2 separate regions of the Homo sapiens genome follow, and region 1 is linked to region 2. Evidence: fine-mapped expression QTL. Tissue or cell type: tibial artery. Region 2 holds a variant in brackets; the other region holds the start of a gene. All regions are shown on one strand. Distances are from middle to middle.

What was found. PIP is the estimated chance that this variant, and not a neighbour inherited with it, causes the effect.
Region 1: it holds the start of LINC02468, and the variant in region 2 is the best candidate, but not a certain one, in a credible set for the expression of LINC02468 in tibial artery (GTEx, PIP 0.64).

What each region holds. Positions count from the first base shown.
Region 1 is chr12:20,126,123-20,130,537 of GRCh38, forward strand. LINC02468 (long intergenic non-protein coding RNA 2468) reads right to left here and starts at 1,779. Exons shown (of 4, transcript NR_146523.1): 1 at 1,694-1,779.
Region 2 is chr12:20,000,123-20,004,537 of GRCh38, forward strand. No RefSeq gene overlaps it. Among named protein-coding and RNA genes, the nearest start is that of LINC02398, 12 kb to the right of the region's middle. The variant G/A (reference allele first, on the strand shown) is at 2,456.

The DNA of each region.
Region 1 (4,415 bases), 130 kb after region 2:
TTTAAAACTTACTTAAAATTATAAAAAAAGAAAGTCCATAAATTTTCACACTTTTATATTTATGAAATAAGTGAATTTCTGATCATATTTTTTTTTAGCTGGTGTGATACCAGGGTATAGCATTTGCTATTCTGGTTTAGTAATGTATTAAAATCTATTAAAATTGTGTGTAGTAGAATCAAAAATTTTAAAATGTAACTTGGACTTCTGTGTATCATGCTAAAAAACAATTTGAAACATACTTTTGCTCAGTTGCATCTCAGCTAAAAGTATTTTTTTCTTATGTGACTCTCTTGAATAGTTTTGTAATTATTGATGATTGTTAATGATGATAACATTTCTGGTCTTGATTTATCAAGTACCATAAACATTCACAATAGATTTGTAATTTCCTCAGAGTTTCAGGAATTAAATTAATTGCCACTATAAAAATGATTTTTGAAGCTCTTCTAGGAAGGGTACTTTGTTTATATTCTAGCTATTTCCTGAGGAATGGTGTAAATATTTCATAAATGTTTGGGAACCAGACTTTTTACGCCCAGTCTCACTATCCAACACATAAATTATCTCTTTCATCTAGATATTATTTTTTACTTTTAGGTACTTAGCTCTTTATTTACATGTTTTAAAGTGTGTTATTTCGCAGTAGTTTATTTGAACTAAATGAGATATTTCTGACATCAACTTTTAAAACTTGATGGTTTCTCTTGGATTTTTTTTTTTCGTAGACTTGCTGTCTCTAGTTCAAGGCTTGCTTTTGCTTGTAAACCTATAATGTTACAATTAAATGATGTAGCAGTTCAAGTAATGTTAACTACCCTGGATTAAAATGCTCTCAGGCAATTAAACGGCAGTTGTAAATCATTGGAATTTGGAAAAATAATCAGTGTCGTATGATAGTTGCATGACACATGATGGATCTGATTTTTAATATATGCCATCTTGATTAGAAAATGAAGATGAGCCTTCTGTAAAATGTCATGCATAAGATAGAATTAAGTAGAGGAAGGAAAAAAAGAACAGAGAATATGTGAATTTTTATTTTCCAGAATAGTTAGGGGAGGCAAACTTTAACTCAGAAAAGTGATAGAACTGCAACAATTCCATTAAATCAGTTATACTCACTGTGAAACACAAGTCACAGTTTTCGTTTTACTGTGGTTAAATGAAATAAACATTGTATTTGATAAAAGCAAGTAAAAGTCATATACACAACTTGAAATGACTCAATTAAATACTCCAGCATTGCCTTCCCCGTGCTTAGCTGGTATTGGTGGGGCTTCCTCTTACCTTTTTAGCTGTGTCTCTCTCCATATAGATATTTTTATTATCACCAGTTATTCGCTATTTTGTTCAAGATTGATTTGGTTTACTTCTATATATCTGTGATTATATACAAATAAGGTCATAACAAACACTAGTGTTTTTATTTTTCAGGAAAATCTCCAAGAGTTGGTGAATCATGCTGTTGCCAATAATAGGCATGTGACATAACTGAACATTTCATCATCTTCAGTAAATAATCAAGATGGTAAGAATTATACAGGATGTAGCATAGATTGTTAAATTTGTGAAAGTAAGTTGTAGGCTATGTTAGTTAGAATTAGGTTTGCCTGCTACTGACAGAAAACTCCAAATAACAACGTCTTAAACAATATGGATGTCTTCTTCTTCAAATAGAATCTAATGTCACCTTTGCAGAGATGACATGCTGGGTCTGTGATCACCAGGGATCCAAATGCCTTCGATCTTGGTGCTGGCTCACAATCACCAAGTGGCTTCCACCTCACAGTCTGCTGTGGTTGATTAAACTCCAGCATCTTATTGATGTTCTAGCTGGCAGAAACGAAAAAGAACCCAACAAGGGCAAGGTTGAATTACAAAGAAAGGAGAAAATATCCATTGGAGGACTACTATCAACCTCTGCCACAATTTCTACATTTTCTCAACGTATGAAATTTTAAAGTATACTACTAAATTTTAAAAATTATTCGTATTCATATTTTCAATGGTAAAACTATCGAGCATTCTGTTGTTTGTGCCAATTGTTTTACCAAAAATTTTAGATACAAGAAGAGACATTTATAACACAAGGTGTTTCTAACTGGAAAGTAAGCCCTGGAAAAATTTAGGAAACAAGAGAGATGTGAAACGTGCTTTATGTTATTGTGATTTTGAAATCTATTTTTTGGAAAAACTATGCTTATAAATAATTGAAACTTTAAGAGAGGTTGAAGACAGTGGAGCACAATTAAATTTTGTGGTTAGAAGGTTGCATTTCTAAAAAAAAATGTTTACTATTGAGAGGGCATTACAGTGCTATGAGGGCAGGAATTTTCGTTCATTTTCTTCACTTATATTTTTTGCAACCAGAGTAGTGTGTCGAACACAGTAGGGGCTAGATAAATGTTGAATTAATGATTGATCAATTGGTGGATTAAATTAGAGTAAAAGATGAAGAAACATTTCTTTTTATTTATTTATTTATTTTTATTATACTTTAAGTTTTAGGGTACATGTGCGTAACATGCAGGTTAGTTACATATGTATACATGTGCCATGTTGGGTGAAGAAACATTTCAACACATGAATTACAAGCAGATTTTTACAAAAGAGCACACATTTAATACTAAATTTGAAAATTCACCAAACATAGTAATAACATCAGTTTTTCCTTAGCTTATTCGATAATACGAGAAAACTGTGTAGGGAAAGAACAACTTGAGTACATATAAAACCCACTGAAGATGTCAAAATGTATCCAAATTTAAAAGAGGCTCTTAAATTTTATCAAGCTAAGAGAAGTCTGGGACTAAGCAAGAATTTATTTGTAGCAAGTCACAAAATAAAAATAAATTATGTGGCCTAGACTGCAACAGTCATAAAATTGTGGGAATTTTAATGAAGTTCTTTCTGAATTTAAAGAAAACCACAGAGGTTTCCTTATCATTATGCATGCCTTTTGCATTTATGAGTGATAATGTTTCATGAGTAAGTAAAAAAGTTGTAAAAATCCTAAATACTGTATGTCTTTATATGCTATCACTCAGAAATATGCAAAAAGATAAACACTTCCTCACAATATGTAAGCAGAACAAAGGCATTAGAAGTAAGCTATGCAAGTTGTAAAACATGGGTTGACATGTACTTAGTCTTATTTTATTGGTATAATTGAGACACATCTGGAGATTACTGAGTCTTGAAATATGCAGATGACTGATGAATTAAGTGTTTGGCTGACAGATTTCAAATTTGAAATTATAATTTCTTTAAAATGCTTATTTAAAAAAAGTCTTCTGTTGTGATTAGAATTCTTTTTCAAGGATGGAAATGTAAATATATTATGGATCCTTTTCCTTGGCCTTCAACAGAGAGCCATGATTTCATTTTTTTGTCAAAGAGAGACAATAAATATTTTAAATATATTTGGGAAAGAGAGAAACTATATGTCACAAACCAATCTCTATCTAAATCTTTCAAAGTACACATGCCCTGTCTTTAAAACAGGCAATTCATAATGAATTTTTCTTACTTCAAGGAATGAACTCATATCAAGTAACATGAAGATGTTCATTGAGAGCAGGGTTCAGTCTGTTTATTCACTGTATTCTCTGAACCTGGAACAGGTTCCTGGCACATAACAGATACTTAATACATATTTGGTATACAGGTGATTGAGTGAATAAATTAATAAATGAATGAACAACTAATCATATGCATATGTAATCCTAGAATTCCAATTTTACTAAAATTCTGCAAATTATGACTTCATCTATTATGTCAACATAATTTTTTCATTTTATGTATTTAAGGTGGCATTCATCATAACACTCAGAGCTGGCATTTAATGTTTTGAGTTGGCCAGTCATTACAGCAGGAACAAATGATTCACTTCCATTCTACTTTATCCTTAAGAGTACTTTAAGAATACTATAGAGAAAAATAAAATTAGTGCCTGCCATTAATGGATATTGGGAAATAATTGGTAACCAAACTGATGAACTCAGAAGGGCTCAGTGGCTCTGGGGTGAGACTTGCCACATGGCGGATGCTTCATTAATCATACCTCTAATAACTTATTGTTGCAATTTCATATATTCCCATAATTCACATTTCTGATTTTAGCTGGTCACTTCTAATATATATTGCTTTGGTTATAAGTTGATGCTATAATAACACTGTTGCTGAGAAGGACATTAGCATGATTTTATTAAAACCTTCCAGTATTATTAATTAATAATCTATTTGAAAGATATAAGCCAGAAATTTCTCATAAAGCTTTTGTTTTGTTTAAAGTCCTTGCTTAGAGTAACCACTATTACCAGTTCCAAGCAATCACCACTATCTCATAGACAAACTTGAATTTTAAGTATTACAGTTCAGCCCATTAGGCATCTTGGGGATGAGAATATAAT
Region 2 (4,415 bases):
GTGAATATATCAAAAATAGGGAAACAGTAGTGTATCCATTTTCTAGTTTTCTGCACCTACTTTCTGTTGCAGTGTTTTTTCAGTGTAAGGTATTCAAATAATATTTGTTGAATTGAACTAAATTGAAGGAGAAATTTCTGAGCTTTGTCGTTTTACCTCTTTGGCATCTGTATAAGTTTTAATTTCATTCTCAGATGCCTACTGGCTCACTCAGTGTTAGGGTCTTCTGGGTCAGATGCTCCTTGTGGGAAGTTACGTAGTTTGGAAGCCTGGAATGTGTTGTTTATGCTAATGAACACACAGCTATCTTCTCCTCTACGATGAGATTGTCATTCAACTGTCAAACAGTGCTTATCCCAGGGCTGCTTTTTATGTATTTAAAGTCTAAAGAGATATCCTAAGCTCCTCTATAAGGACTCCTGAGATGTAATTATGAGTCAGTTAAATTTGTTTTTTTGTTTTAAATCATATTTCCCCATATTTTATTTATCTAAGACCAAGCACAATGTTTTCTTTATTCCCTATCTCTTAGATAGAGTTCACTTGCTTGCCAACAATAAGTCATCAGAGCCCAGTAAACAATATCCGTATTTAGCTTCCTCTCATTAGTTTGTCTGTTTTCTATCAGTCAAAGAGGTGTCATGTTGCAGACAGATCAACATTGCTACAAGATTCTTTTTACCTTTGATTGCTAAGAGGGGTAGAATAGGGTAATTCAGCAGAGTATGCTTTTAAAATTATTTACATGGGCAGTTTAAAAGCATTTTAAGAATCTGTTAATAAAGGCTATCAGTGGAACTAGGTGAATGGTAAGTGTATTTATATGTTAGACATGGTGGGTCTTTATTACTGTGCTCTTTCTTGTAGACTAGGATTATCTCTGCTATATTCACTCAAGAAACATTCATTAAGTAGCTACTATGAACTAGTTTTGGGCTAAGTCATAAGGATTAAAAAATGAACACAGAAATTCAGAAGATACCTTCCACATGCTTCTATAACCAAGTCAAGGGATCTACCTGCATTTTTACATGAATATTCTAATTTTCTTCCGGTTACAATAAATGAATTATATATAATTCTGTCTATCTTGATCTAATCCTCTTTCTTTTTTCAAGAACTTTGTTCCTGCTTTTGCCCCTTCTATCATAAATTTTCCTTCTTTATTGCATCCTATCTATTAGAAAACAAACATGCTGTAGTATATTTCGTGTTTGGAAAACCCACTCCAGACCACTTGTTCTACTTTATAGCTTGTTAAAAGAGAATTTTCAAAAAAGACAAAGGTATGGCTCTTCTACAGCTATAAAAGAGCAAATGTTAAACATTTTATTTAACATATTATTATGGGAGGATCAGGAAGATATTACAAGCAGTCATAGAAGAATCCAACCACATCACACTCATTAGTATGGTCACTATCAAAACAAACAAACCAGAAAATAAGAAGTGTTGGTGAGGATGTGGAGCAATTGGAATACTTGTGTGCTGTTGGTGGGATGTAAAATGGTGCAACTGTTATGAAAAACAGTATAGTGATTCCTCAAAAAATTAAAGTAGAATTATTGTATCATTCAGCAATTCTACTTCAGGCCATATACTCAAAAGAATTAAAAATTAAAAGCAGGGTCTTTAAGAGATATTTGTATACCTGTGTTCATAGCAGTATTATTCACAATAGTCAAAACGTAGAAGTGTCCACTGATGAATGAATAAACAAAATATGGTGTATATACACACAATGGAATATTATTCAGCCTTGAAAAAGAAGGCAATTCTGACATATGCTTCATTGTGGATGAATCTTGAGGCCATTTTGCTCAGTGAAGTAAGCCATTCACGAAAAGCCAAATACTGTATGATTTCATCTCTGTGAGGTACTTAGGGTAGTGAACTTCATAGAGAGATAGTAGAATGGTGGTTACCAGGAGCTATAGGTAACCTACAGGGGAATGGGGAGTTATTGTTTAATGAGTACAGTGTTTCCATTTTGCAGGATGAAAAGAGTTCTGGAAAGGGATGGTAGTGATGGTTGCATAACAGTGTGCCATGTACTTAACACTACTGAGCTATATATGTACTTAAAAATGATTAAGATGGTAAATTTTATGTATATTTTACCACAATCAAAAATAAATTTAAAAATAAAAGAAAAAGGAAAGAGGAAGGCAAAAAAAGTTAAGGAAAAAAAGATGTTAAGGGGAAAAATAATATGAACAGAGACATATATAGGGATTAGGAATTTTTTTAACTTTTAAAACTAATTTTTTTAAAAATTGACAGATGACATCGTATTTTTTAAACATGTACAACATGATGTTTTGAAGCATGCATACATTGTGGAATGGTTAAATCTAACAACTGCGTTACCTCACATAGTTAACAATTGCATTACCTCACATCCATCCAGCATACCATTTTTGTGGTGAGAGCATGTAACAACTGCTCTGTTTAC[G/A]TTTTTCAAGAATACAACATATCATCCTTAACTATAGTCACCTGGCTGAACAATAGATCTCTTAAATTTATTTCTCCTGTCTAACTGTAATTATGTATCCTTTGATCAACATCTCCTTATTCCCCTTTCTCCCCATAGTCATTCAGCCTCTGGTAAACTACTGTTCTACTCTCTACTTCCATGAGATCAACTTTTTCAGATTCCACATGAGTGAGATGGTGAGCTATTTGTCTGTATTAAGGACACTTAATATCCATAGTGTTGCAAATCGCAGGATTTCATTCTTATGGCTGAATAGTACTTCATTGTGTATATGTACCACATTTTCTTTAGGTCTCCATTTATTGATGGACATGTAGGTTGATTCCATATCTTGGCTATTGTGAATAGTGCGGCAATCAACATGGGAATGCAGATATCTTTTTGACATACTGATATCATTTCCTTTGGATAAATACCCAGTAGTGGGATTGCTGTATCATATAATAGTTCTAAATGTTAATTTTTGAGGCATCTCCATACTGTTTTTCATAATGGCTGTACTCATTTATATTCCAACCAACAGTGTACAAGCGTTTTCTTTGACCTACATCCTCGCCAACACTTGCTATCTTTAGTTTTTTTGATAATAGCCATTCTGGGGTGAGGTGATATCTCATTGTGGTTTTAGTTTGCATTTCCATGATGCTTAGTAATATTGAGCATTTTTTATCATATACCTATTGGGCATTTGTAGGTCTTCTTTTAATAGACATTTAATAAATGTGCAAATAGAGGCAAAAATGGCTTCTTCTGCAGTGAGAGAAGAAAGTCAATAGATCCTCTAAGGGACAGAATTTGTTTCCATATCCACAGACAAGAACAATTTTTTGCATTGTCATCATTTATGTATAAGAGACGAAGTTGTAAAATAGCCCCCATAGAATCAGAATTAGAGAACCTGGAAGAGTGTGCTCTAACCAATGCACCATTTTCCAGCAAAGCACATTTTTTTTTTCTACAAACGAAACTCTTGGAACAAGTAGACTACACTTTCTGTCATTCCCATGTATGGAAGAATAAAAATGGCCACAAGTTATTTGCAGCTCCTTACGTCAAGAGTTGGAGTCCATTGGCTGGGTGTGGTGGCTCACGCCTATAATCCCAGCACTTTGGGAGGCTGAGGCGGGTGGATCACGAGGTCAGGAGTTCCAGACCAGCCTGGCCAACATAGTGAAACCCCGTCTCTGCTAAAAATACAAAAAATTAGCTGGGCGTGATGGCGGGTGCCTGTAATCCCAGCTACTTGGGAGGCTGAGGCAGAAGAATCACTTGAATTTGGGAGGGGAAGGTTGCCGTGAGCCAAGATCGTGCCACTGCGCTCTCTCTAGCCCAGGCGACAGTGTGTGACTCCGTCTCAAAAAAAAAAAAAAAAAAAAATTAAAAAAACACAATAAGATGGAGTCCATTTTCTTACTCCTTAAATCTAGACTGGCCTTGTGACTTGTTTTGATTAATAAAATGTGGCAGAAGTGGCCTTGTGCAACTTCTGAAGATAGACCCCAGGAGGCCCTGCAGCTTCCACTCTCGCTGTCTTAGAAAGCTGCTGCCCTGTGAATAAGCCTAAGCTACCCTGCTGGAAAGACCACATGGGGAGGACCAAGGTGATCCAGCCACACTCTGCCAACCACCAGATATGTCAATAAGGCCATCTTATACCATCCAGTCCTGTCCAAGCTGTCAACTGACTATAGCCAATAAGTGAGTCTAAGTGAGAGCAACAGAGGAGATGTCTCGCTGAACCTAAGTGAAATTATCAACCACAAAATTGTGAATGAATAAATCACTTTTAAGCCACTAAGTTCTGGGGTAATTTGTTATTCAGCAAATATGGTAACTGATACAGATTTCACTAAATGGTACCTTAATTTTTCCAATTCTTCATACCCCAAAGTTTAGAGTTACCTTACCTATTCTCCTT